2 separate regions of the Homo sapiens genome follow, and region 1 is linked to region 2. Evidence: fine-mapped expression QTL. A gene starts in region 2. The other region holds a variant in brackets. All regions are shown on one strand. Distances are from middle to middle. Region 1 overlaps MRPL35 (mitochondrial ribosomal protein L35). Region 2 holds the start of REEP1 (receptor accessory protein 1).

Region 1 (14,898 bases), 120 kb after region 2:
CATTGCTCAGCCTCAGTGAATCCAGACTGGATAACTAGCCTGGGTTGTTAGATGCCTGAGGATCTCACGGTGACTTTGGGCCACCTTCTGACACCCACAACCATCAGTACAGGGAAAGCCCTGGACCTGGATGTGGAGGGTACAGCATATGCAGAGGCACAGTCTCGAACCGGTACCCACCCCACTTCCATGTCATGGAGTTGGCTGCTGGGGTGGAGCTGGCCAGGCTGCTTCTGCAGTTTTTGCCTTGGTCTGAGGGCTTTTGGTCTTTTTTCCCTCCTGCCAGGCAGGAGGTATCTGTGTCCAGAAGGAATTTCCTGGTTTGGTTAATGGGGGTGTCAAGCTCTGACTTGGGACTAGAGCTGAGCTCTCTGAGATGACTTCAGGATTCTATTTAGTTTAGTTGATGAGTGGCCACTGTGTGCCCAGCCCTGGGTCAGGTGCTCAGAGAGACTGAGGGAGGATCAGCCATGGCCCCCCAGTCTCAGGATGCCTTCTGTTGGCTGAGGCAATGAGACTGACATGAGGACCAGGGCACCCAACACAAGCTGTGTGGCACAGCCTCCAAGCACTGTCGGGTCTCAGAGTGGGGAGGCCAGGGAGGGTCAGAGTATTCAGCGAGGGCTCCCTGGAGTCACTGGTCTTTGTGCTCAACAGGATGCAGCTGATTAGGACAGAGGAAGGGAGCAGAGGACAAACTAAGCCCAGAGTAAATAAGCTGAGGGAAGTGCAGAGTAGAAATAAAATAATAATAGTAATTTAAAAATCAAAGGAACATCAGTGATCTCAGGACTTTACTTACTAAGGCCCAGTCTGAACCAATCACACCCCAGCCTAAAATTCAGCTTTGCATGTTGTGCTGCTTCCTGCTGGCTGTTGGGGAGCACAGCAGTGGTAACTGGTAAAGCTGCCCAAGATTAGGGTTCAGTTGTCTGTTTTTTTACTCCACGCCTGGTGGTGGTATAGTCTAGCAAGTCCACTGTTGATGGAGAGAGAGCACATTCGGTGGCTGAATATGTTCTTAGGAGCAGGGTGTCTCAAGAAGAGCTGTGGTTTCTATCTGGAGGCCTCACGGTGATTGGACCAGATGACTTGAGAACCCCTTAGTCTTGCATTCTGTGATTCTAGGTAAAAACAATAGATGCAGCATAGAAAAATGTGTGTGTGTGATACCAGATAAGCTGGGTAGGGGCAGAAGATATTTTACATCTCAACTAAGAACCGCCTAGCAGATGACATGGAATATGTATTAGCATTTAACATTTAAAAAATACTGTGCGTTCAATGAGATGAATTAATTCTGAAGCTTTTCCCGCAGATGTATTCAAGGCAGACTGAAACAGGAATCTTGCTATCATTTTTTTTGGCAGAGGCATCTGTCAGATTCTCCTTCCTTAGGTTTCTCTGCTTCTCTAGGACTGGGCCTTCGCAAAAAAAAAAACAAACAAAAAAACTATATAGCTTTGTTTAAGGTTATCACTTAAGGCCTCCTGGCATTTTATATCCTGTCTCTTACAGGATGCTTGGAATTGAATATGCAAGTATAATATACAATGTCAACATGGCTTGTATGTACAACATAGAAACTGCTCTCCCACCCCACCCCACATCACTGCTGCCATCCTCTCTAGAGGAGATTCTTTCCCTGAGCATTCACCTGGTGTGGGATCACAGGACTGAGCTGCAGGGATTGATGTGTCTCAGTTAAAGCCGCTTCTTTCTTCACCCAGGGAAGTGATGCCCCCTTAGTAAATCTACTGAATTACTCAGAATTCAGTAGATTCTGAGTCTGTGGTTGTTTCTGTGCACAGTGCCTGGAGATTCACACAACTGCACTTTCACAATCCCAGATCCCCTGTAAGGAGGCCCCCAAAACATCAGTGCTTCCTCAGACCGAGGGGCCTCAGCTGTCCTCACAGGCCTGGTTTGCTGTGCTGTGTGCCTAACCTTGCCCTTCCCTGCTCCCTGCACTGATGCTTCCTTGCTATACCTTGTCTCATCTGTGTAGATTGTAAATGGACATTAAGTGGTTGAGGGAGATGTGAATGAGGGTGGTATGAAGGCATGGGAGCCCCACCAGGTCCAAAACCCATTGGCGTTTTCTGACGACGAGGAGGAAGACCTGCTGGATTTCATGTACAAGTATAAAGCACCTCGAAGGATGGAATTGCCCCTGGAGGTACACAGTGTCTGGGGCTGTGGGTTGGAGTGTGTTTGTCCAAAGGCTATGCCCTGGAGATTGGGGGTCCTGGGAGCAGCATCTCTTGGGGCACCAACATCTCCTCAATACCTGGGGTGGAAAGATCTCCTTCCATCAAACAAGCAGAACCAGTCACTGGATAGCATCCAGCTACTTGCCAAGGAGAGGAAATCCTATTAATTTCATTTAGAAATAGGAGCGTGAGCCGGGTGCAGTGGCTTATGCCTGTAATCCCAGCACTTTGGGAGGCCGAGGCAGGTGGATCACCTGAGGTCAGGAGTTCGAGACCAGCCTGGCCAACATGGCAAAACCCCTTATCTACTGAAAATACAAAAATTAGCCGGGTGTAGTGGCGCGCACCTGTAGTCCCAGCTGCTTGGGAAACTGAGGCAGGAGACTCGCTTGAACCCAGGAGGAGGAGGTTGCAGTGAGACTGCACTGCTGCACTCCAGCCGGGATGACACAGCGAGACTCCTTCTCAAAAAAAAAAAAAAAAAGAAAAGAAAAACAAATAGGAGAGTGGTAAAGTATCTAGGTCTTTATTGTTTTGTTTTGGTTTTTCCAGGTATTAACAACTACCACTCTAAGTTGACGTACAAGTGAAAAACAACCCAAATTGACTGTTTTGGGGGAAGAAAACTCAGAATGTGTTATTTGAAAAGTTTTTATAAATAAGAACAAGGCTTGTTCATCGCTGTATCTCCAAGACACAGCATATAGTGCCTGGTATAAAGTAGCTATTCATGAAATGTTAGTGAAGGGGTATAGCCCTTTAGGGTTACCAAAACCAATACCCTTGACATATATGCTATTTTCAGTTGTAGGATGTGGATGGAGTTCTGGCAGCAGGAGGGCTGAGCCTGGAGCCTCCTGGGCCTTGCTCTGTGATGTGGGTAGGGAGTCACCAGTCATGAGCACAGGTGCAGGGACCCCAGTCTTTCTCTCTGCTTCCTAAGGTCTCCTCTCCTATTCCCCATCTGCTGAGTATCACGGCCTGAGAGGCCATCTGAAGCAAATAGGAAGTCTCCGTACAGACCCTTGTGAGACTTATATGGGGAGATGCCTTGAAATGTTCCCTTCTGCAGACACTGAGCAGCCTAGCATTCTTATTTGTTAGGACTGTAATTATGACCACCTCCATGTGCAGTTCATCAGGTTCCTTTGCAAGGTGAGGCACACATGCATCCCTTTTAAAGTTAGAGGGTTTGGGAAAGGATGTTCTGGGCTTGGACACTGCTGGAGGAGTCTGGCCTGGGCAATCTGGCCTGGGCAGCCTCCTGATGGGGAGAGGAGCCCAGCCTAAAGAATTCTAAGGCCCAAGGGTTTGTGCTGTTTTGCTTTTGTTTATTAAAGCTGCACAAACTGCTTTACTGTTTACAGTTCACCAGCCTGCCAAGAGGCAGATTACTATAAAGGTGGGTTCCGTTGTTTCCGTTTTCAGTGTCTGTCCAGAGGTGGCTGGTAAGCATTTCCTAGTGGTAAGGCTGTAGCATGAGGACTCTATGAGAGGGCCTGAGTCTTGTTTTCTGGCTCATTCACTTCCTGCCTTGTATGTGCCTGCCCAGCACTGAGCCACTTACCAGGAAATGGTGGTGAATGCGACATGGGCCTGCCCTCAGGAAGTCCCCAGTCTGGTGGGGAGAGAGTGAGCAGGGCCCCCACACACTCCCTTCCCACTGGGTGCAAAGTCCTCTGCTGGGGGACATGTACAAAACATGAGAGAACAAAGGAGGTGACGATGCCTGGTTGTGCATGGCTGGGCAGTGGCAGGAGGGGCTCCGGGAAACCTTTGCAGAAGTGACTTTTGAGCTGGGTCCTCAAGAGGCCTAGAAATATGCAAGACAGAGGAGGGAGGGAAGGGCTTCCAGTCAGAAGGAATAGAGGCATGAATGGGCACAGTGTAGAGAAAGAAGTTCTCTGTGTATACAGAGAAGTGGACAGACACGGGGGCCAAGGGTAGGTTGGGGCCAGTTGTGTGAACCCCCTCAAGTGCTGTGCCAGAAAATGTTCCCTTCACTTTCATTGAAATAGGAACTCCTCCTGTGATCTGTGTATCCCATGGAAGGAGGGGTCTCTTGAGAGTCATTTGTGGGAGAGATGAGGTGGAGCCCTTCATATAAGTTGAGCATCCCTAATCGAAAAATCTGAAATTCTTTGAGTGTGGACAAGACGCACAAAGGTCATGCTCATAGGAGCATTTTGAATCTCAGATTTTCAGATTGGGGTGCTCAATTGGAATGTATATGCAAACATCCCAAAATCTGAAAAAAAAAAAAAAAAAATCTGAAATCCCAAACACTTCTGACTCCAGGCATTTCCGGATAAGGGATATTCAACCTGTACTTCAAGGTGGTGTTTGCCTTTGTGGTGTGGTGTGCTGTACATTAAGAGGTTTCTCATCCAGAAAGGGGACTGGAAATTTGATGATGGAAATTTGAGGCATGTACCAAAACACATTAGGCTGGTTCCCAAAGGAAATAACAAAAGCAAAGGAAGCATGCGGAGG[T/C]GTCTCTTTCTGCTGAATCATTTAAGATAATTTTGCTCCTCAGGCAGAAACAAGAAAGATGTGTCATTCTGCACAACCGTTCCCTTGGGAGATTGAGGAGCATAATTTAAGAGGGAGGCATCAGCCTCTCAAAGGGCTCAGCTTCATGCGATATGTGGGATGGGACTCTGATGATTGCTTCCTGTTGCGGAGATTCAGGGAGACCCCAGCCCTAGCCAGCTGCATTTGGCCAAAGGAGCTGGAAGTCTCAACACAATGCCTTCCAGGTGCTGACCTCAAAAGATCCCACATTTACACCAAACTGAGGGACACCTTTCTGTTTTCTCTACCAGGCACCGCCTAGAATCCTTCGATCTCGCTTCAGGAAGAAAAGTACCTCATCCTCGGCCACCGAAACCACGTGAGTGAGATGAGCCAACAGCACCGGATCCACAGAATGTTTCTTCTCTGCCTTAAAGAGCTATTCACTAATAACATAGAAATCCGCAAGCTGGGTGTGCTTTGAGTGTGCAGCCTCACAAACATGGCCTTTTCTCTCTCCCCTTCCACTTTTAAGGATTTATTTTTTTCCCCCTTTTCTTTATTTTGCTGGGGAGAGGCTAAAGGGAAAGGTAGTAGGGGCGGGGGTGGTGACCTTTAAGTCTTCTGAGGTTGGTAATTTTCCACAATTGGATTGTCATTATAGACAGCAGTGTGTTTTTTAGAAAGATAAGAGAATCACCCCTATGCTGCTGAGATGTACATTTGTAATTTATCTGTTGCATACTTAGTTTTTAGTCCTGTAAATGCAAACACAGCATTTTTTACAACTTTCTTTGTTCTTGGTACTTATACTTTGAACTATGATGTACATATTTATGGCTTTTGGCTTTTAATATAATGGACTTGCAAGGGCTGCCAGAGGTTCTGATATGTAAGAAAACTGCAAAAACAAATATAGACAAATATTTTGATTCTAGAGAACGTCTCAGATGTGCTTATAAAGCTTCCAAATACAACTCCAGTAAGACATCCCTTTCCCTGCAGGAGTGTGGTCTATATTCTTTAGATAGTTGTTTAGTCAAAAGACCAGACAAGTTACAAACTAAGAGAAACAATATTTCACAACACAGTAAAGTGTGATGAGAGGTCAGGGGAACATCCCAGTAAAAGAGAAGAGTCACAGGAAGCTCATCTCCTCCCTGGATTCTGGATTAGGAGCTTCTGAATCTTTTCCAGGGATAGGCAGGTAGCTCACTCTTGGTGCAATTTCTTGAGGATGGGAACATGTAGAGCTGCTGGAAGGAGTAATTCTGTGCTTGACAAAGGACGATTTCTCCTTTATCGTGACCAGTGCTGCCGATTTCCTGACAGAGGAGCTTACACTCTGAGCACCTTGTTTTAGCGAACTCTAGCAAAACTTGTTTAGCTTAGCAAAAACAAACACACAAAAAACTGAGAACTCTGCTGTTTCAGATATGCCATAACATACATCTGAAACACATGTGTAACAATCAAAATGGTGGGCTCTAGAATGGTTTTGGAGCTCGAGATCTTCATGGGTTAGACTTGCTGGTCAGACCCAGGAGCACCTGTGGCTCACACCTTCTGTTCCCCTCCTGGCCTGTGCAGAATGTAAACAGCAGACTCATACTCAATGGGCACTACAGGCCTTATCAGACGTTTTATACAAGCCTGGATTGCTTAGTAGGGGAATAAGGCATTCTCTGAGGGGGCTTTCCACTTAGATTGAGAATTTTATTTGAAAAGAATCTGGTTTAAATGGCATTGTGGTCCGAGGTAGCTGCTCTCCCCACTGAGAGCTGAGCCGAAATATAAGAATAATATATTTGTGCTTCGAGTTGGTGTTTCTTTCAGTGTAATGCATGCAGTGGTCACAACCCAGTTACTCATAATATTTGGATTGTATTTGTTCGTAGATATGCCCAGAAGACTAGAGAATTAGTGTTATATACCATATAGAACTTACTGTCAGTCAACTATAAACAGGCCCAATTAAAAACTGTTCCATTACTACGCAAACACATATTAGAGGCCTTTGCTGATGACACATTAGCTGGATCTTAGCCACCCCAGAAAGGGTTTGATTTGAAGCTGATTGTTGCCAGATATGCATATTGGAATCCCATCTACCCATAGTTCCTCTGAAGGTGATTTTGTAATTTGCAAAAGGGTATAGGAAAATATACCTAAAAGCGAATTTGTGGCTGAGAGGATAAACAGAAGCTGTTTGCTCATGTTCTGTGCCCCACACCCACCAATACCTAAATCTGTTAAGGAAGACAGAAAATGTTTTCTTTGTGCTCATTGAGTAGTTCCAGACAGAAGAAGAATATACTCTTTAAAATGTATTTACCTGTTAGTTGGAAGTACCCAGAATTATCAGAAACGAATGCAAAAAAAAAAAAAAAAAAAAAAAGCTTACACAGCTTCTTAGCAATTTTTTTTTTTTTGCCGAAACAATAAATTGCCTTTAGCAGCAGTTTAAAATCCTATCGTGAACAACCTATATTTTCGCCATTTTACAATGGAGAGTTGTGACAAGTACAGGTTATCAAGTTTGCACTTAACTATGCCAAAAAAAGTTTGAAGCGCTCTATTCTCAGACATGCTGTATTATTACTTCTCATTCAAGATTGAAAAATATAAAGGTATCCAAACTCTGTCTTAATGTAAATGTAACTATTTTTCCTTCAAGTGTTGACTAGGGAGTCGGTTTCTCTCTTAAAGACACTCACTGTACAACTGAAAGCAGCTGTCATATTTCTGGCAAAATGTGTTTACGTATCTGACAAGTTGTACATTTGTGTATGAACTGACATAAAATGTGAAAGCCTGTAAGTGTACATGTAGTGGTGTGGTGTTCTGTCTAGAGGATACAACTGAATGTTTTTAATTTGCTGACTTACAGACACAGGCTGTTTACAAAATGCTAGCTGGAAAGTCTGTAATGTTCATGTCATAACTTTTAGTTAATTGCCATTGAGCACCTGTTCTGAGGAGGTGAGATGTGGACTTGTGCTTATAAACTGGAGAGTTTAGTCATAATCCCTCCTGGCTTTGTGTGAATAGCTTGCTCACTTTGCTGGCCTTTGAAATGTGTTCTCCGTGATAAGCTATCCATGTGTTTGTGATAAGAGTGCTTGTCAACCATGACCATCTTTGAGCCTTCCTAGTCCTCCACCTGGCACAGTATTTGAAATGGCAAAGGATGTGCTTCATCCTCTAACAGTGTACACTCCCAGAGCTGATATTCTGGATTTTGACTGTGCACATTTCCTCTAGTTCATGTCTGTAGTCCCTATAGAATGATCTGTAATAAAATAGTATACTGGACTGTGCATCAAAGGGATGTAAAATTACAGTATTCCAAAGGTTGAAGTTCTGCTGTTTTGTTATAATGCCTGATACACATCTTGAATAAAGTCTTAACATTTTTCTTTTAAAAAACATCTTTGTAATGTTGGGCTTAAAAGGAAACAGGAAATACTTTTTTTCAAATATGGGAGGTAGCAAGGATTAGAAGCTGAGTGTTCAGCCACCGACTGGCCTGGTGACTTGGCCCCGTGCCTGTTGCATAGGATGTTGAGAGGGAAAGAAAACCAGATGATATAAATGTTTTGAAAACCAGTTCATCACACAACTACAAACCTGAAAGTATCACTGTTTATTTCACATTTAAAAAAATCATCGGCAGAAACTAGGTAGCTGTGAAAATAGAATAGTCCACTGGTAGAGTTTCAATTGTGCAAACAGACGTTTGGTCCATCATTTTTCTTCTCTGAACATTTCTTCATCTGCAAATGGGGGAGTGCCTGTGCAGGTGACAACAGGGTGGTGAAGGGCCACCCTTAAACCTGCTGCAGCCCTTACCTTTCACATCTGAACAGGCAGACTCAAACTTCATTGGGTGGCCACAAAGACTTGGAAGCTCAAAATTTGAAACATCAAAATTAAACACAGACCCAATTTCTTTGCATTTTTAGTCCTGTATTCTATGTTTGACAAAATCACTGTAAAATAAAGCAGCAGTAAGAAAAGAAGCAGATTCAGAGGACTAAAAGCAGGAACAGATGGGAAAAAAAGGCTGGAAATCCATTCGTTTATTTACTGAGCCTGGTCCAATGTCAACAGAACTAGGATTAACTAGGTTAAGAGTTGGCAAAGGACAGGAAAGCAAAGTAATAAAATTTAAAAGCTGAATTGGTACAGTGTTATGAAGAAGTGTTTATTTAGTATTTATAGTACCAGATTACAGTCACTTGTTGATTTAGATATGAATTTTCATATGTTAGAAGACTCAGGGAAATACACAGGATCCCAAGGAGTGAGACTGAGATTCTGGGTCTTATTAGCTGTACTTTGGGTAATTTACTTAACCCTCTCTCAGCTTCAGTTTCCTCAAATCTAAATTAGGGCTTAACTAATCATTATGTCCTTTGTAAGACTGGAAATGTGGATTAGCAGTTAGACAGTATGTATGTACCCAGTTTTGTAGATATGCTGGGACATAGTAGGTGTTCAATAAATTATACATATACCTGAATAAACAAACTATACATAAATATTTTATAAATTATACATATAATCGAACATCATTTAGGTAAACTCTTTAATGAAAGACATTTATTGTCAGATTATAAAATCAGTGTTGATGATAAGCCCTCCTACCCACAAAACAAAAATCGTATGTATGAAATTCCCTTTCCCGTAAGTTATGTGCCTGTCAGCCATCCCACTTCAGTCCATCTTTGGATGCTGAGGCTCTGGTTGCCAGTCCTTATCTCTACACCTGTCCCTGGTCTAGAGGAGAAACGAAGGTGCTCTGAGGCCCCTGTAACAGAGACCCTTGTCATCCATATTTGCAATAAAGACATCATGGAGGCTGTGCAAAAGTATCCTTCTCCCCAACTTCTGCAGGCACCATTTCCATCTCACTACCCAGAGGTACATCAGAGAGCAGGAGCCAGGCAGGTGACAAAGATGTGGAAGGCTTCTAAGTGGTTGGCTTTGCCGTCTCAGAAGTGCGAAGAAATGAAAATCCATCAAAACAGAATGCCATTCCATGTTTCAGGCTTTTACCTCACCTCAAATCAAATGTCTGTTCTTTATTTATTGGTCCCATAAGTAGACACGCACTTGGACTTCTGGTTTTAGAACATTCTATTGTTATCCTTTCTCCTTTTAATAAACACACACTAGTTTCGAGGAATCTCCCTAATAATCCTGGCCTGACATGCTGCAGAACTTCAATTTCATAATTTTACTAACAACAGAGGAATTTCATCTTATTATTACCAACTACCACATTAAAGGATCTGAAACAGTAATTCATGCATAATTCTATTTAATAATGGTTTTCAAAGTACTTTGCTGTTTGAAAATGCTTCCCAGATGATTCTGATCGGAGAGTTGGGAACCACTGCCCTAGACTGTAACCACTCAATTGAACTTTACTCAGTGCTGCTTCCCTGCCCACTTCAAGTAAACAATGCTTAACTTTTTCGTTTCTAAAACAACTGAGATTACTTTCTCCCCCTTAGTTTCTACAATGATTGTTGAAAATTTGTGGGAAAAGTTTATCCTTACAAATGAAAACATGAAATCTGAAGTGGATAAACTAACTTTTAAGAAATACATATCCTTACTCAGTAAGCTGAGGCAGGAGGACCACTTGAGCCCAGGAGTGCGAGGCTTCAATGAGCTATGATTGCACCACTGCACTCCAGCCTGGGCAACAGAGCAAAACTCCTGTCTCTAGAAAAAATAAATACCTATCTTTCAAAACTTGCATAAAAAGCCCTTGTCTTCACTTGTACAGCCTCTTCTGTTTCATGAATGAGCATGCTGAAGGGCTATTTACTCTCCTATGAAAAAATGTTGTTACAGTAAATGACAAGTGTTATGAACACAATGAACCTGGTGTGTTAGATGTTAAGTGTGCTGCCACCCCATGTGAACCTCCAAGTGAAACTGCTCACATAACTGTTTTTTTGCTGCATGCAAACCTGCTAATACAAAGCGGGCTCCTGACTTAAGGACAGCCAATCCCTACTCTAGACAATGACCCAACCAGACCTAGTATAAAAAGGTAGTCTGGCCCAGTTAAATTCCCTTGGCAATTGGAGACTAGCAGCAGGAGCTGAAGGTCATCATGTAGAAAAGAACCTCAAAGGTGCAAGTTAAAGTTATTACAAAGGAACAGAAACTGTAAGTATGCAAAAGCTGTGTAGAGAAGTTGGTGAATAGAGAGAATGGAGTTAACAATGCAAAAAGAAGCAAGTCACATGCATGCAGAGCCCAAGCCTAAACATCCACCTTCCCCTGCTGAGGAGCACCACCCAATTTCTACTCTTCCTGAGGCTGGGAGGTGATTTCTGAGTGGGAGATGGGGTTGGTGAGGTGGTTCCTGAATTCCCTGGCACATATCCTTGAAATAATGTCACATTGCTTGAGCTAACTTGTAGCTTTTGAGTCTTTTTATGTTTGTCCCACTTGAGATTCCTTGCAACTAAAAGAGCATAACTGAAACAACTAGTTAAGCCAATACCATTTGTTAAAAATAATGCACCATTCTAAATTTCTGTTTCCCTAACCAAATCTGGCAAAGTCTGATCCATTAAGTTTTAAAACTTTTCTAAGTTTAATGTTGTCACTGTATGTTTACGTATTCATTGGTACAATTTACATCAAGTTTTGTACTTATCCATTTTTGCAAAGATATGTACACAAAGATACATATCCAATAACTGAGAAACAAGTGAAACTTCTGATCTATACTTTCAGGTTTGTTCGATCATGATACTTCTGATAAGGATCATCAACGTACCAGTTTCGCCTCTTCCAGAAGGACGTCGTCATTTTATCTAAGAGTTTACTCTGGGTTTTATTGCAGAATACAAATTCCCTCAATCGCTTCTTCCTTGCAGGTGTCTTTTTCCATAATTTTTTCTTATAGCCAGCCTGTCAGATATTACAAAGAAATGTAAAACATCATACTATGTATGAAACAACAGGTATCTTCACAACTCAAGGTTTATAGACCCAATAAGAACAAAAACCAGACTTCCATAGGGGCTGGACTATTTCTTGGAAAGATGTGATTCTCAATGGCCGGGGGAAGGGAGGGTGGCGGGGAGGGGGATGGAGAAAGCATGTGTAGTTTAAAAAAGAATTAGTAATAAATCATATTTTAGAAAAAAATTATTTAAATTAAACTCACAGAAAATAAAACTAAATGTGTGTGGCTGGGAAAGTACAAGATAATGACAGAATTATAATCACTAACTTAACAGGTATGATCTTACTATCTCTTCAGCAATCTTTAACAACATACTATTATTCTATTTTACATCTTTAAAAAAAGAAACCATTGATTAGAGAAGTAGCAGACAGAGGTCTGAGGGCTAATAAGAGTTCTTTTTTTGTTTCATTTTGAGACAGGGTCTCACTCTGTCACCCAGGCTGGAGTGCAGTGGCATGATCACGGTCACTGCAGCCTCTACCTCCTGGGCTCAAGTGATCCTCCTGCCTCAGCCTCTCGTATAGCTGGGACCACAAGTGTGCACCACCATACCCAGCTACTTTTTAAATTTTTGTAGAGATAAGGTCTCACCATCTTGCCCAGGCTAATAAGAGTTCTTAACCACTGTCTTTCCTAATGTAGAGGAGGATGGAGTGCAGGCGAGGTAACAACATTAATATTTATTAAGGAGGCTGAGTATTACAAGAGCTGAGAAGCACAGTTCTCAAATATATTGCTTCATTTATTATTTTCACACACAAGGGACCAATTTTTATAGGAAGTACTTTTCTAAGGAATTATGAATATGGTAAGACTATTATTAGGAGTGGTGAAGGAATGGTTAACCCACATATTTAACCCAGAACTTTCATATACACCCATACAGGTATTATTCATTTTGAAGAATTTATTTTTAAAGACAGGAAAGGAAAATTTGATTGATTATAAAAACTATAATCATAGCCTGTTTAAACTAGAAGGGATCTTAGGTGCCATCCAGCTTAATTAACATCTGGCTAAAACCACACGGTGAGCCCTTGGGTCCTTTCAAGCCAAGGGCTCTTTATGGCACAATACCAACTGAACAAAACCATGGCTCTTTGCCGAGAATGTGCCTTGCATTTCTGACATGTCTTAGTATCATCACTGTGACCATCAACTTCTATAAGGACAGTGATGAAATAAGGAAAGGTTATTTAAGAGTTCTGGTTTTAGAATGCTAGAGGTTAGATTTTTGCTACTCACTGCTTACAATTTTAAATGCAAACATTTAAAGCCAAATCTCCACATTTGTGTAATAATTTCATAGTTTGCAGGCCAAACTGGGTTACTATGGATCTCTGACGTACAAACACCTAATTTATTGCCCTGCTCATTACCACCAGTATCCTTTAAAGATTATTCACAGAATGGAACCACTATGAAAATGCTTGAAATTTTTTAGACAATCTCTAGATTCAAAAATGGAAGGAGGGAATGAACAATAAATACCAAGGACTGCTGGATGAAACCGTGTCATGGAAAATACTTTGTTTTACACATTAGTTTGAATTCATCTACCCAGATTTTTTTTTTCTCTGAAAATTAGATTTTGAAGAGGCAGGGCATTCTATACAGGGTATACTTTCGGGAGCCCTGAACTGAAGCTAGGTATTATGACTGGAGAGTATGATCGGGTCCTTTACAGTAACATGAGGGCCCCAGAGCCCAGTAAGAGGGACATGGAAAGGAAGGCAAGGAAACCCACCCATTTCATTTTACCTAGGGCTAGAAGAGGACCTGGAAATAACTGGTATAAAAACCAAAGGGTGGGGCTAGGCGTCACGGCCCATGCCTGTAATCCCAGCACTTTGGGAGGCCGAGACAGGTGGATCACTTAAGGTCAGGAGTTCAAGACCAGCCTGGCCAACATGGTGAAAACCCGTCTCTACTAAAAATACAAAAATTAGCCTGGCATGGTGGTGCATGCCTGTAATCCCAGCTACTCGGAAGGCTGAGGCAGGAGAATGGCCTGAACCCGTGAGGCAGAGGTCACAGTGAGCCAAGATTGTGCCACTGCACTCTAGCCTGGGCGATAGAGTGACACTTTGTCTCAAAAAAAGAAAAAAAAAAAAACACATACACACAAAAGGGAAGAAATGTTTCCAGTGGTCTCAAATTCACAAAACTCAGAACATTAGACCTTTAGTTTAGCTGCTTTATGGATTATATGAGCTTCTGCTGACTGGTGTAGGAAACTACCCACCACAGTGTTTCAATAGAGAAATGAGCTGAGAGTTCCAACCAACCCATTTATCTACTAATTTAGTACTGTTTATAAAACGGGAGAATCCTTTCAACCTTTCAAACATCAAGAAAGTTCTACCAACTATTTTATTTTTACAGGGAACCAAATTTTGATTTTTAAAGATTTAATTTCCAAGTAATGAAAGGGAATTAGGATTTGGGCAGTTACTAAATCTCAAAAATGGTTTTGCAAAACTGGTCTTAAGCTGCTTTCTTTTCATTTTTTGAGATGAAGTCTTGCTGTGTCACCTAGGCTGGAGTGCAGTGGCGTGATCTTGGCTCACTGCAGCCTCTGCCTTCCAGGTTCAAGCGACTCTCCTGCCTCAGCTTCCCAAGCAGCTGGGATTATAGGCACCTGCCACAACGCCTGACCTCAAGTGTTCTGCCCGCCTTGGCCTCCCAAAGTGCTGGGATTACAGGCATGAGCTACAGTGCCTGGCTGAATTCTGAATTCTGTTTGATTTTAATCTGCTCACACTCCTTTTTTCTTTTCTTTTTTGAGACGGAGTCTCGCTCTGTCGCCCAGGCTGGAGTGCAGTGGTTCGATCTTGGCTCACTACAACCTCCACCTCCCGGGTTCAAGCAATTATGTGCCTCAGCCTCCCGAGTAGCTGGAATTACAGGTGCCTGCCACCACGCCTAATTTTTGTATTTTTAGTAGAGATGGAGTTTCACCATGTTGGCCAAGCTGGTCTTGAACTCCTGACCTTATGATCCACCCGCCAAAGTGCTGGGATTATAGGCGTGAGCCACCACGCCCGGCCTCACATTCCTTTTTCAATTTAGTAACAGTGTGAAGACTCACCTTTCTCCTCACCCAAAGGCCACAATGAAGTCGAAGAAACCTATCGATGACAGCTTTCACGGTCTTTCTCTTGCCTT
Region 2 (14,898 bases):
TAACAGATTTTAATAAAAATCTTTAATTTTGCACATTTTATTAAAGACATCTAATCATGTTAATATACTGCTAGAGTCATTCCCAGGCTCCTAATTAGATGTCCTAAAACGTATGCTTTATCTTCATGGTAGATCAACTCTGGGTGTAGGTACACTTGATGTTGAGTTTCCATATCAATGTCAATGTTTAAGGCAAAAATTTGATACAGTAAAAAATTATTTATATGGCTCATAGTGGTCTAACACAATGAGCTTTTCCTCAGGCTGTGGATCAGATCACTTTCCAGTTTTGTTCATTTCCAACTGAAGCTGTGGAGGTGCTTAGGATCATGTTGTACAAACAATATGGATGTGTGAACACTAGAATCACACACACAGAGTGTGGGGTTGTCATAGGAACCGAGGTCTATGGAGGAAACAGCAGAGCCACCTCTCTAGTATCATCAGCACAGGGCGCCTTCTCATGAAGTCATGAAGTGAAAGGACAGGCAGAACCCCTGTAATACAGGCCATTTTCCTCTTTCTCTTTCTTTCCTGACCCTTAAAGTTTAATTCAAGTAAGTTATTGATTGTATGATGAGACCTTACTATACCACATGTAACACTTATAATTTACAAAAATTAGAACAAACATTTCTGAAACATTTTGGGAATGTAATTTAGCATTATGCATCAAAAGCCGCCCAAAAAGTTCATACCCCTAAAGACTCAATTTCCAGGAATTTATCCTAACTAAATCATTATGAACATATTAAAATATATAGCTACAAGTGTGTTCATTGCTAAATTATTTTTTAATTATTTTTTAATTTTTAGAGAAGGAGTCTTGCTTTGTTGCATAGGCTGTACTGAAACTCCTGGGCTCAAGCAGTCCTCCTGCCTCAGTCTCCCAAGTAGTTGGGATTACAGGTGCAAGCTACCATGCCTGGCCCTAGGTTTTTAATCAGTAAAAATTGGAAATGATCTATTACTATATGGCCAATGATATGGAATTGTTTAAATTAATTATGGTATATTTACACAATGGAATACAACACATTGGTTCAAATGGCAATGTAAAGAAATGTGAAAGATCTACTTGAAGAAAAAATTAAATGCTATTAAGAACACAGAAGATAATTTGTATAAATGAAAACAAATACCTTGCTCTTGGATAGGAAGACAAATACTGTCATGATTAATTATTAATCTAAAAATTTAACCTCATCTCAATTAAAAATAACAATCAGAATTATCAAAAAATGAGATAATATGACTGTAAAGTCTAATGAAAGTATAAATGGCAAGAATAACCAGAAAATTTGTAAAAGGAAGTGAAGGGACTATCCCTACTATTAGTAAAATATGTTATAAAACACTGCAGTAATTAAAACTACAACCATTCATGAGTGGATGTGCAGAACTGAACAGAGTCTAGAAAAACTAGACTCTGATATAATAAGGAACAGAGTATATGATGGAGATGGCCTTTCAACTTGAAGGAGAAAATGGTGGCTTGTTCAATAAATTGTATTAAGACAAGTAACTAACTCATACACTAAAATTAATTCCAGGTGGACTGTAAAATAAAAAGTATAAAATTAAAATTTAAAATTTAAAGGCAGATGCACAGAAATATTTTTAATTTTAAATTTTTAAAAATTAAGAAAAATTTTAAAAATAAGTAATTTTAGTATAGGAGAGGCAAATGGTATATATAAACCAATACAAAGCTCACAAGCCATAAAATATACATAAAAATGATTACATAAAATTCTGAACATTTTGAAAAGAAAAAATGTCATAAATAATGTCTGAAGGGAAAATGATAACTTGGGAAAAAGATTTTAATGTGGATGACAGTCAAAAAGCTTATTTCTCAATATATAAACATTTTTAAATAATAAATAAGAAAAAGGCCAATAAAAACATGGTTATCCACAACTACAGAGCTTCTCATAAGACATCATGGAAAAATATGTTTTCTATTTTTTATTACTTAGCTTTACTGATGTATAATTTACATAAAACAAAACCTGCCAATTCTAAATGTAAAGTTTGATGAATCTGTTTATGGTTAGTAATTACCATCACAATTAGGATATAGAATTTTTCCATCACCCAAAACAGTTTCCTCTTGCCCTTTTACAATCCCCACCCCTGACATCTGGGAACCACTATGCCCTTTTGGTTACTATGGTTTTGTCTTTTCTAGAATTTCATAAAAATGAAATTATATAGTATGAGTCTTTTGTATCTGGCTTCTTATACTTAGCATAATGCTTTTGAGATTCATCCATGTTGTTGCAAGCATATGTAGTTAATTTCTTTTTTATTGCTGAGTAGTAAATATTCCATTGTATGGATATACCACAATTTGTACCAGTTGATGAAAATCTGGGTTATTTCCAGTTTGGGGCCATTATGAATAAAGCTGCTATGGACAAGTCTGTGTGGACATGTTTTCATTTTTCTTGGGTGAATATCTAAAGAATCGAATTTCTAAGTCATATGTAAGTGTATATGTAATTATAAAAGAAACTGGGCCGGGCATGGTGGCTCACGCCTGTAATCTCAGCACTTTGGGAGGCTGAGGTGGGTGGATCACCTGACATCAGGATTTCGAGACCAGCCTGGCCAACATGGTGAAACCCTGTCTCTACTAAAATATATTAATTAGCTGGGTGTGGTGGTACATGCCTATAATCCCAGCTACTCAGGAAGCTGAGGCAGGAGGGTTGCTTGAACCTGGGAGGCAGAGGTTGTGGTAAGCCAAGATCGTGCCACTGCATTCCAGCCTGGGGAACACAGCCAGACTCCATCTCAAAAAAAAAAAAAAGAAACTGTCTGACCAGTTTCTAAGGTTGGAACATGGGGAGAATCATTCACCAAAAAAAGTAGAGAGTTCTTCCCAGAAGAAAGGGGAAGGGTGTGAGGCAAAAGTAATTTCCACTTTTTTTGAAATATAGAAAACCATTTTTCAAAGTAGTATCATTTTACTTTCCCACCAGCAGCATATGAGAGTTCCAGTTGCTCCATATCCTTGCCAGAACATGAAATGATCAGTCTTTTTCATTGTAGCCATTCTTAAATGTGTGCAGTAATATCTTCTTGTGATTTCAATTTGTATTTCCCTAATTAATGATTAATGATGTTGAATATTTTTTTCATGTACTTTTTGTTTTTCCATTTGTATTTTTTCTTTGGTGAAATGTCTGTTCAAATATTATAAAATTGAAGGTATTTATTTGCTTATTGCATTATTTCTGTCACTTCATGGTCTGTTTCTATTGGTTGATTTTTCAACCTGCTTACAAGTCATTTTCTTTGCATGCCTGATAATTTTTGTTTGCATGTTGGACATTGTGAATTTTATCTTATTGGGTGTTGGGTTTTGTTGTTGTTTGTTTTGTAACTAATCTTGGACTTTTTTTTTTCTCTGAGCACAGTTAAGTTACTTGAGATCAATTTGATCCTTTTGAAGATTGCTTTTAAGTTTTGTTAAGGCAGGACCAGATAAGTGTTTATTTTAGGGCTAATTTAGCCTCCCCCTGCATTAAGATGATACCCTTCTGTGGACTCTGGCCAATGCTTTGTGTATAAAAGGTCTCTGTTTTGGCTGGTATGAAGACAAATTACTTCCAGCCCTGTGTGAGCTCCAGGAATTGTTTGGCATACTGCTTTCTGGTAGTTCTTCCCATGGCCTCATAGAATTTCACCCATGCATGCCTAGGACAGTATTCAGCTAATGACTTGAAGTGACTGCTCTGCAGATCTCTGCAACTCTCTCTCTAATCATCTCCCATCACTCTTATATTCTGCTTCACAAATTCTAGCCACTTTGGCTTCCCTGGACTCTGATCTGTCTCCTGTGTTCTGTGAAATTTCTGGGCTCTGTTTGGGTTCTCCATCCCTACAGTGATGCCTGGAAACTGCTTTGAGACAGTAAGCTCGGACGTAAGACTCACTTCATTTGTTTCTCTTCTCTTAGTTATCACAGTCCTGTGCTCTGTTGTTCAATGCTTAAAAACAGTTGCTTCTTGCCGGGCACGGTGGCTCACACCTGTAATCCCAGCACTTTGGGAGTCCGAGGAGGGTGGATCACGAGGTCAGGAGATCGAGACCACCCTGACTAACACGGTGAAACCCCGTCTCATCTCTACTAAAAATACAAAAAACTAGCTGGACATACTGGTGGCTACCTGTAGTCCCAGGTACTCGGGAGACTGAGGCAGGAGAATGGTGTGAACCTAGGAGGCGGAGCTTGCAGTGAGCCGAGATCACAGCACTGCACTCCAGCCTGGGCGACAGAGTGAGACTCCGTCTCAAACAAACAAGTAAAGAAAAACAGTTGTTTCTTTTTTTTGATCCTGTTTTTCTAGTTGTTTGCAATGGGAGGACAATTCCCACAGCAGCCAATGCTTCATAGAAGAAAGTGGAATTCTCTTTTTTCTATTTTCAACTTTAAAAATCCCAAGGGAGATCGTTGGCCCAGTTTCTGTTTGGTGATCACCCATAAGCCAATCAAGGTAGTGAGGATATATAAGAAAATCACAGTTTCTAAGGTTGGAGTATGGGGAGACTCATTCCCCAGTGAAAAACAGAGAGCTCTTCCCAGAAGAAAGGGGAAGGGTACAGGGTAAAAACAGATGAGAGACATCTATTATCAAAGCAGTTCTTATGAAAAAGAACTTGAAGTCAAGAAACTGATAGAGCTGTAAGAGTTCCATTGTCTAGAAGGTGGAGTCCGTTCCCTGGCCACATGTTTTCCAGGGCCAAGGACAAACAAGAGCAGGTCCAGGATAGAGAGATACAATAAGTGTAACAGTTACACTGAAAGAGACAGAATGCAGTACAAAAGCAACTTTCTTTCTTTCTTTCTTCTTTTCCCTCCTCTACCCATCCAAGTCCGCTCTATGGACAAGTTCTTTCTCATCCCTTGTGAGAAATATGTGTTGGTCTCACTAGTTTTCTGGTCCTCTTCAGCTAATGAAAAGACCTCAAGATATTTTAACCCCATGAATAGTTTCATTTTGGTAATTAAAATGCTCAGTCCTGTGCAATAGTCAAATCTGAGAATTCCACTTATAGGGAGTAGGGAACAAGCATGTGGTCACCTCTTCTTTATTTTCCCACCAACAGGGTCTCTTTGAACCACAGTAGTCCATCCCTCCGCTGCTCCCCCTGCAAGATGGGTAACAGCCTTTCTGACGCAGGGAGCATAGGTGAGGGGTATGGATGGAGGGGAAGGGAGGTCTCAGGAAGGTCCTCTGTGCTGGGTGCTGTCCTGATCTAGCTTTGGTGTTCTCTTTGCCTAGTAAGTATGGAAAGCTTTTCCCCGTGGAGCATTGTTTTACCCGTATAACCTTACCTTGAGTGAGATATGGTGGGGCCAGACACAGATCAAGAGAGAGAAGCTAGAAAGAGTTTTAGAGCTTTTTATATCCACAGTTTCCTGGAGAGATCACAGCACACCATGCAGGTCCACTCAGGGCCAGGGTCTGTCACAGAGAGAGGGAGAGAGGGGAATTGTGGACAAACATCTTTATCATGGTTTCTGAGGGAAGGAAAGAGTGAAATAAGGCAAGCAGATATAGGATAGGCTAATTTGGATAATTTCAGCGGGTTCTGAAGTACAGGGGCTGTAACTAGTTGTTTGGTGCCTAGCCCTGGACAGGTGTATAGTGTCCCGCGTGTGAGAGCCTGCTAACGGAAGTGGTTGGGGGTATGCAGTTAATAGACTGCTGGAGAAGGGGAACTGACCAGCCTCCAGCCTGAGCCTCAAAACTGGGTCAAGGCAGCATGAAAAAACTGCTACATTACAGCTATTTTATGGGTTCTTTGGAGACCTGAGATATGAGAGCATGTCTCATCTGCAGTCCCTTTGTTGTCCGTGAAGTCTTTCTTCTGACTATATCAGGCACACGCACGCACAGATTCTGCTACATCTGAGAGTACTAAGCTGTCTCCTGCGCTTCTCACATCTGACACTGAATTATACATGACACCATCATCAGCAAAGGACAGGGCGCTGGGAGCACCACGCAGAACCTAAGCTATTGGAGGGTGGGAAAAGCAGCAGCAGAGCCTAGGAGTAGAGGACAAAGCGTTTCCAGTGTAACAGAATAATGTACTATCTGCGGCCGGGACTAGGGTGAGCAGAGTGAGGCGCTCAGTGAGGGTGCAACATTTAAGAGGTGCCATAAAATTCAGCAACTAAAATACATAATAGGTGGCTCACTCCTGTAATCCCAGCACTTTGGGAGGCCAAGGCGGGCGGATCACGAGGTCAGGAGTTTGAGACCAGCCTGGACAACATGGTGAAACCCCGTCTCTACTAAAAATACAAAAATTAGCTGGGCGTGGTGGCGCACTCCTGTAATCTCAGCTACTCATGAGGCTGAGGCAGAAGAATCGCTTGAACCCGGGAGGCGGAGCTTGCAGTGAGCCGAGATCGCGCCACTGCACCCCAGAGCGAGACTCTGTCTCATAAAAAAACAACAACAACAAAAAAAACCACCATAATATTTAATACGGTATTTTAAAAAATACATAAAAACGTTTATATAGGGTGCACAAGTTCCCTTTTGCCTAAGAGTTCAACGTGGCTCAGCGGGGCACTGGTGCTAAGCAGTCGCAGCTTCTAGTCTCCTCCTAGGGCCCGGAGCAGCCCCCAAGGAAAGGCCTTCCCTAGGAAGAAGTAGCCCTTCAGCCCAGCCTAGAAGAAGGAGCTGAATCAAACCAAGGCAGGACGATGAGGCGTGGCGTGTACTGACAGGGAAGAAGAAACAGCAAATATTTGAGTCCAAGATGCCTGGAGGGAAAAGAGCTAGAGGACTATTTGGGGGAATGGTCTTGGCAACACGGTTCTAGGCAGGTACCACGATCATATAGGGACTCTGTAGAATTTTAAGTAGGGAGGCAAGCGCCCAGGTTTGTTTCTTATGCAGAAAGTGCTGAGCAACGGACAGACTGAAGAGGTTAGGTCTGGATCCAGGTAAACCCTTTATGAGGCTAACGCACTAGCTGAATGAGGGATGACAGCATCCCACCTAGACAGGTGCAGACAGATTCCCGAGGTTCAGGTTCGGACTTCAGTTTCTCCGCTGGAACGCTGAGGGTGGGGCAGCACCCGGGTCCCTGCCCTGCAAACGGGGCCGCTGCAGGGTTCCTTTGGCGGGGCCGGTGCCCCGGGGAGCGCGCAGGACGCGCCCGCCTTCAGCCGGGGGCCAGGGCGAGCGGGACGGGGCGGGCCCGCGGGTGCCCTGACCAGCTCACCGCCCAATCGCTGCGGGCCCGCCGAGCCCCGGGGGGCTGGGGCCGCCGCCGCCGCCGCCAGAACGTGCCGCGGCTGCGCCAACGCGCGAACGCCGGGCAGGGCGGCGGGCGCGCTCAGTCTGGCGGCGGCTGCCGTGAGCTGACTGACGTTCCGGGAACGCCGCAGCAGCCCGCGCCGCCCGCAGCCTAGCCGAGCCGCGCCGCCCGGGCCTCGCCCGCCCGCCTGCCCGCCATGGTGTCATGGATCATCTCCAGGCTGGTGGTGTAAGTGGCCTTCTCCCCCGCGCCCCTCCGTCCCCTCCCTCCCCGCCCCCGGCCCCGGGCTGCGCGCGCCCCTACAGCGCCCGGTCCCAGTGGCTCGGGCTATTAATACCCGGCGCAGCTAAATTTAGCAGGTACAGTAGCCGCCGAGGACGCCTGCGGGCGGACGGGCGGCGCAGGACGCGGCTGCTGCCCAGGAGGCAGCCGGCGCCGGCGGCCGCTTGCGGGGGGCTGGGCCGGGACGGCGAGGGCTGGGGCGCTCGGGGGTTCCGTGGGGGCTGCGTCTCGCCGCGCGCTGGCCGCTTTGTTCCTCAGCTCGGTCGATTTGCAGAGGCCCCGAATGGGCGCACCGCGGACACGCGTCTCTCTCCTTTGGCAGAAATGTGAGGTCGCCCGGCGCCGCGCCCCGCCGCCCCAGCTTTTGTCAGGTGGAAAGGACAGCGCAGACGAACCAGGGGCGCTGCCTGGAGGGTCAGCGCGGAACGGGTGGAGAGGCAGAGGCGGGGCTCCCAGTGGGGTTGGAAAAATCCTCCTTTTTAGGTGTCTGCATCGACAGCGGCAAAGGCAGCTGGGACATGGGAAGACGCATGTGAATCTTGGAGTAAACGCCTGGAGCCCCCGGCTCCGACTCCTTTTGCAGGGGATTGAGAGACAGGGGCAGGTACCTCCAGGAATGCACGGGAAATTTTCAAGTGACAGCCACCCGCATGGTGGCGATGACACCTCCCAGGCCTTGCAGGAGAGCGCAGAGTCATCTAGGGTGAGGTCTGTGTGAAGTCATTGGGGGTGGGCGTGGGGGCCGATTTTCTCCTTCAAGCCCCAGGACCTGTAGGCGTTTGAAGAGCTTCCCCGGTGGATTTATTCTCCTTTGGAGATAGACGTGGCTGTTCCAAGTCCCTGTTCTTCCCTAACCATCCTGGCCTGAGTCAGAACAGATTTGCCACCTGCTGTAGCTAGCAGGGGCTGAAATGGGTGTGGGGAGTCTAAGGCGGGGAGGAGGGTGGCAGGCACCTCGGGCTTTTTCTTTGTCTGAGAACACGGGGCTCTGGACCCCAGTGATTGTGCACCATCACTCCCCACGTTTTGAAACACCACCCATCTCCCTTCCCTTCTTTACTGATTTTCCCTTCCGAAGTGGATCTCAGCATTGTCTCCCGCCACCATTCAGGGCTTTCCTCCCAAAGCCAGTGTCTGTGCCTCTCAGCCCCCAAGTCATTCCGTGAAGGCCTCTCCACAGCTGTTCCTGACTGCGGGGTGTTTGCGCTGCACCTTGAGGTGGCATGTTAAATATTTAGAAGATTTCTGCTGGCAGAGCCGACATGAATAATACAGGAAAGTGGCTGACACGCCTTGCCCAGCCTCATGCCTGACCAACACTGTCTTGCCTTCAGGGTGGTGTTTCCTCTCTGGGATCGATATTGCCAGTGGCTTCTGGGAAGCCCTCAGGGTGGGGCTGGAGAGTTGAGCTGGCCTGGCTGGTGGGCTCTCTGTAGGTCCTGCTGGGCTGGGAGTGAGGGCATCTGATCCTGGGTCATGTGACTATCATTAGTTTTATTAGCACTGGGTCATGTGACTATCATTAGTTTTATTAGCACCTCCCTCACCCCTGCCCTTTTTTTTTTTTTTTTTTTGAGACCGAGTCTCGCTCTGTCGCCCAGGCTGGAGAGTGCAGTGGCACAGTCTCGGCTCACTGAAGCCTCCGCCTCCTGGGTTCAAGCGATTCTCCTGCCTCAGCCTCCCGAGTAGCTGGGATTACAAGCGCCTGCCACCACGCCCAGCTAATTTTTGTATTTTTAGTAGAGACGGGGTTTCACCATGTTGGCCAGCCTGGTCTTGAACTCCTGACCTAGTGATCCGCCCGCTTCGGCCTCCCAAAGTTCTGGGATTACAGGCGTGAGCTACCACGCCCGGCTCCTCCCCCTTTTTTACAATGAGCAACTGATGGGGGTGGAGAGGAGAGGCATATATTTGGGAGGTGTCTCAGGGATGTGCTGTTGCTTTCTAAAACAACCACACTCCCTAGAACCGAGACTTCAGAGAATTTAAATGAACAGCATTATGTGGCCCAAGGAGAGTTGATGGGATTTGGGATTGTTACTTCCACTATCAAGTCCAAAAGGTCAGGGATACCACTTATCCCCCAGTCCCTAATTCCCTGTAGAAACCTAGCATAAGCATATTGATTATGAGTTATGAACATCATTTTTAATAAGCAATACCTGTTTCATGAAGACAATATTTGTTAATTACAGGAAAATTAGAAAAGATAAACTGAAAATCATCCACATTTCCACCACACAGAGATAACTAATAATAATGATGGAGGGCATATTCTTCAAGAAATTTTCCTGTATTGCATATATGTACATATATTTGTAATTCAAGGATATTATTGATTCAGCCCAATATTCTACACTCCACATACCTTGAGGAACTTCTTATCAAGGGGAGGAATACTGTGTTTGGAGTCAGAACGCCCATGGTTCAAATCCCAGTTTTGCCTCTTGCCAGAAGATCCCAGTTCACAACTCAGATCAGAGCAGATGCTAGTCCACAGCTAGTTAACCTCATGTTGCTGTTGCAAAGATTTCCATGACACTTGATATATAAATTGCCAAGCACCACGGAGAGCACTAAATCAATGATGAGTCCCTCCTTCTGTCCTCCCCGGGAACCCTATGAGAGGGGCTCTCAGACTTAATTTACTCCTGTGGTTTTCAAACTGGGTTCCCTGAGGGCCACCCAGCCTGAGCAGATGGGCTCTGGGCTCCTCATCCCTGATTCAACCCAAGCAGTTCCCTTTTTGTTTGTCTTATATATTGGGGTTCTAGATAAAATACAATTCAGAAAAATATATGTGTTTTACTGCTAATAAAAACAACTGATCTAGTCCTCCCCCTCATCTGTAAAACTGCAGAGGAAATATGCCTTGCTCAGGGACACAAGATGAGCTGGTGAAGAAAACAGGCTCTGGATTTTTAGTCCAGTCCAGTGCTTTTTCCACCTTCACTCCCCACTGAGAAAAACATCTCTTTCAAGCTCCCTAGACCTCTGGTATGGGAGCATCCTATGGTTTTATCCGCGAGTCACGTTTTGTATAAGTAATCTTTTCATGGTTTTGTAAGCCTCTGTCACATCAAAGAACATGTAAGGAAGACCTATCACTGTGTTGTGAGGATAGAGAGGGAGTGTCTTCCTGTCTTTGTGTGGTCCCAACCATCCGACCAGAGGTATCACAACAAGCTGATGGCCTCCAGGGACAGCCAGCCAGTGCTCGTGGTTGTCTCTGCTGCTACTGGCCGTGAGCATTTTGAAGAAAGCAATTGTGGCTTGTTTCCCTTTACAACCGCTTTATCCCTGCCATGGGTCTTTCACAAAGTATCTGGCACCTGAATGCACTGAGTGAAGGTTGGTTGTGTTGAAGGAAATCCTAGGCCCTGGGGACAAGCAGAGTGGCTGGCTACTGCTGTCCCCTGGGGACGGAGGTCAGCAGGCATCAAGACAGGCTTGTGCCCACGGGCAAGGCTCTTAGAGTGAGGACCAGTTTGAGATGCTTATTTCTTGCCAGCTCTCTTTCTCCTAACTTCCTTGGCTCAGCCTGTAAAGAATTAAGGAAGAGATACTCAGTGCAATAGCACTCAGAACCAGGTTGATACCTTCATGGGACACAGGGGCTTATTTAGGACTTGCCTGCTTGCCTCCTTTCATTTTCTTTACATACAACTCAAGGCCTAGGCATGAATGAATTTCAAACTGGGGAGAGCATGTTTTTGTGCACCCTTTTGGAGGGGGGATACCAACGTTGCTCTGTGACTTCTTGGAAGAATATGCCATTTTGAAGCATTATTCTAAGGAGCAGGTATTGCCTCATTGTCTTGGCCAAGGCCCAGAATGTTGGCTGAACGGATCAAGAGCTTCTCACCCCTTATGGGATTAGTAGACTAAAACCCCAGCTCACTACATGGGGGAAAGAGAGTTCTAAGTCCACAGAATTTTCTGAATAACTAATGGCTGTGCAGAAAACATTTTATTTCCACATTGCACATTTTAAAAAATACTAGTTTTTAGAAAATACAGTGTGATGATCAAGACAGAGTCTTAGTTTGATGGCTGAAGATCTGGCTAAGTTCCAGGACTGGGATTTGGAGCATGAAGTCTGTCCTGGGTCAGGGATGTGCAAATGGATGGAGCTGGGAGGAATGTGGATTGTCCTCAAGATGTTCCCCAACTGTTGCAAAACAAATGGAAAAAAAAGAAAATATCGTAAATCCTTAAATATAAGCTAGCTTTTCTTTGGGGCCTGCTTTTAAAATGTGGCATGCAGGAAACTGATTCAGTTAATGGAGGGTTCCAGTTGGTTGAGGATTGATTTCCTGGCACTGTGCTGTAGTACACTGTGGGAGCTGGGTAAATGTTTCGGTTGAATTGTGAAAGGAAAGATGTTAGGCTAGTAGGCAGCAGACATGGGTTCTAGTCCCAGTGCTGGTCTGACTCACTATCACAGTCCTAAGGGCAACTCCCACCCACCTGGGCCAGCTCCCTGTCTAAGAGACAGGTTTTTGGCCACAGTCACCTTGCAGGTCCTAAGAGCTCCAAGAGTCAGTGTTCCTCTAGGTCCCTTCCTTCCCCAGCTGGCCTGTATGCATCACATTTATTTATAAACAGGAGGAGTATCCTCAAGGAAGTGAAAAATACTAGCTTAGATTTCTCCGCTGTTGAGCTGCCCTGTTTCTTTGTTTGCTAATCCTGCCTGTCTGCTGAGAAGTAGCTTTCATGCACTTCTTCCCACTGTGTCTTATTTGAGGTTAGCTGACAAGTGAGGGTCTCACCTAGTTATTACTGGGTCAGTCTCCCCACTTCCTTCTGAAGCCCGCTATCTTTTTTGGAGGGTGTATTATGTCGGGGGAGGAGGAGCCCTGGGGAGAATGAGGGAAGGGGGACTCAGGTCCTCTTTGGCCATTTAGTGAGGCTGCTGTTTTGTGTACGTATGAGTGTATGTGAGTGAACGTGTGTGTGTGTGTGTGTGTGTGTGTGTGTGTGTGTGTTTCCAGGAAAGTTAGGGAGGCTAGGGAAAGGAGAGATATGGCAGTGCAGCAGCCATAGCACGTGGCACCTTTAGAATTTCACTGCCAGGGATGAGCCACACACATGCCCAGCTGGTTACCAGAATTCTTAGTCTGGGGGAGTTTTTCCAACCCCCGAAAAGAAGTAAGGAGAGGGGGGTGCACTTGGGCACTAAGGATGTTCTCCTCTCGATTCTGGGCCTTGGGAAGGGAATTGGGATTCTTGAGGAACTGGAAGTTGGATCATTATATTCAGAGTATTTATTCTGAATTTTCAGATCTCATCTGTCTTTATACAGAAGCACATTATTTTCACTTTGGGATTTTTAAGTCACACTGGGGCTTCCCTGGGAATACAGGGAAAAAGGAAATATAGATCAAGGACCAACTATTGGGCACACAGTAGGGATTTCAGAAGGAATCTTGAAAGGTAATTTGGTATAGGCCTTCAAGCATGCGTGGGTACCCAGACCAGGATGGCAAGTGAGGCTGCCTAGGACACTGTCTTGAGGAGCAAGAAGCTGAGTTAGGCTCAGTGGGGAAGGAGTCCCAAGAGTGCTTTATGCAGGGAAGATGGCAATGGGGCACATGGGTTGGTTCAGTATTTGCTCTTCCACACTTAGCTCATTCCTGATCAGAAAAGGTCTGCCCCATTGTCAGATTTACTAGATTAGTAAACAGAGAGCATCTGTTATTTGAGTTAACATCTCCTCCTGACATCCTATCTCTCCCTCTCCCCGTGGCCTTGTCAGTCACCTGGCAGTTCTAGGACAAAGGTGCCTCCTGTTCCCACTCTAGGTAGCTGTCCAGCCTAGAGGCTGTCTTGCCCTGCTTCTCTTTCCTCTTAGGACTATCCTGCGTATCTATACTACATTCCCCGCCCCCCCACCTTTTTTTTTTCCTTTCACTGATCACAGCTCAAAGTCTGCCTTAGGCATTCTCCTGCATACTTAGGTGTGTATATCCTTTCCCCCTCTTTGTAGGGGACTCTGGATAGTACTTTGGGCTGCAAAACTAGTTTTCCATTCCCTTCTGGTAGCATGCTGCATCCTGCCTCCCTTCACTCAGCCACAGAAGTCAGCATGTGACCCAGGCCTAGATATGCATTTCCCTGGGCACAGACATTGGTCCAGAGGTGGGCAGGTGACCCAAACTGAGATCCTTCCCCAGGGTTTCTTGATTTGGAGCTGAGGGAGAATAGCCTTGCCTATGGGTTCCAGAGTTGGGAAGATATGAAGTTAGGGCTGAGGCATCTAAAGCCCCTGGCATACGTGGAGAAAGTCCATAAGTAAAAGTGAAGAATACAACAAAGCAAAAATAAATGGAGATGAGACTTGGGTGAGAGAAAGAGGCTGGCACAAGAGAATCTTGGTTCTGGTTGCTCGGGCCCCAGTTCCTGCAGCTGCTTTTTTGATGCCATGAACTGTCCGATATCCTAGAATGAAAACTTTAAATGCTGCTTATAATCCATTAAATATTTGTTGTTCGGATGGACTGGGGTATGCTGCAGGAACAACTCCCAAATCCCAGTGGCTCAAGAAAACAAAGGTTTATTTCTTGCTTTCTGCTGCCTGTTACTGTGGGTTGGCAGGGGTACTCTGCTCATCGCATTCACTGAGAGTCCCAGGCTGACTGGATTTCCTTTGTCTTATCGTTATAAGACATCAGGATTCTGGCTGGGCACGGTGGCTGACCGTGTAATCCCAGCACTTTGGGAGGCAGAGGTGGACAGATCACTTGAGCCCAGGAATTTGAGACCAGCCTGGGCAACATGGCAAAACCCCATCTCTACAAAAAAAATACAAAAATTAGCTGGGCATGGTGGTGTGCACCTGTGGTCCCAGCTACTTGGAGGATGAGGTGGGAGGATCACTTGAGCCTGGGAGCTGGAGGTTGCAGTGAGCCGAGATCATGCCACTGCACTGAGCCTGAGCAACAGAGTGAGACCCTGTCTTAACACACACACACACACACACACACACACACACACACACACACACACACCAGGATTCACTGTGGTAGGGAGAGTCACATACTAGCTCATAAGTACCTGCACCTGGAGATGATAACATGCCATTTCTGCTCACATGTCATTGGCCAAACCTGAATTCAAGTGGTTACACTCCTCACTAAAGAACAGCCCTAATGACCAGCATATATGTTGAATGAATGACTCCTAACCAGCTTTGCAAACCTAGAAATGTCCTTGGCATAATATGGTATTGTGCAACTGGGAGAATCCTGACATACTCCTTCAATCTCTACACTAGAAATATCTTTCTCACTTCCCTTTTAGTCCCTTTATTCTGTTCGTGAG

The links.
Region 1: its variant is fine-mapped to the expression of REEP1 in whole blood (TOPMed, PIP above 0.99). The same link has a PIP of 0.9 or more in blood mononuclear cells.

Annotation. Positions count from the first base shown.
Region 1 is chr2:86,207,251-86,222,148 of GRCh38, reverse strand. MRPL35 (mitochondrial ribosomal protein L35) reads right to left here. Exons shown (of 4, transcript NM_016622.4): 3 at 14,822-14,898; 4 at 8,359-11,669. The coding sequence ends at 11,481. REEP1 (receptor accessory protein 1) reads left to right here. Exons shown (of 9, transcript NM_001371279.1): 8 at 2,028-2,179; 9 at 5,039-8,156. The coding sequence ends at 5,110. Among named protein-coding and RNA genes, the nearest start is that of MRPL35, 15 kb to the right of the region's middle. RefSeq lists an enhancer at 3,689-3,983. The variant T/C (reference allele first, on the strand shown) is at 4,707.
Region 2 is chr2:86,330,102-86,344,999 of GRCh38, reverse strand. It overlaps REEP1 (receptor accessory protein 1), which reads left to right and starts at 7,374. Exons shown (of 9, transcript NM_001371279.1): 1 at 7,374-7,521. The coding sequence starts at 7,490.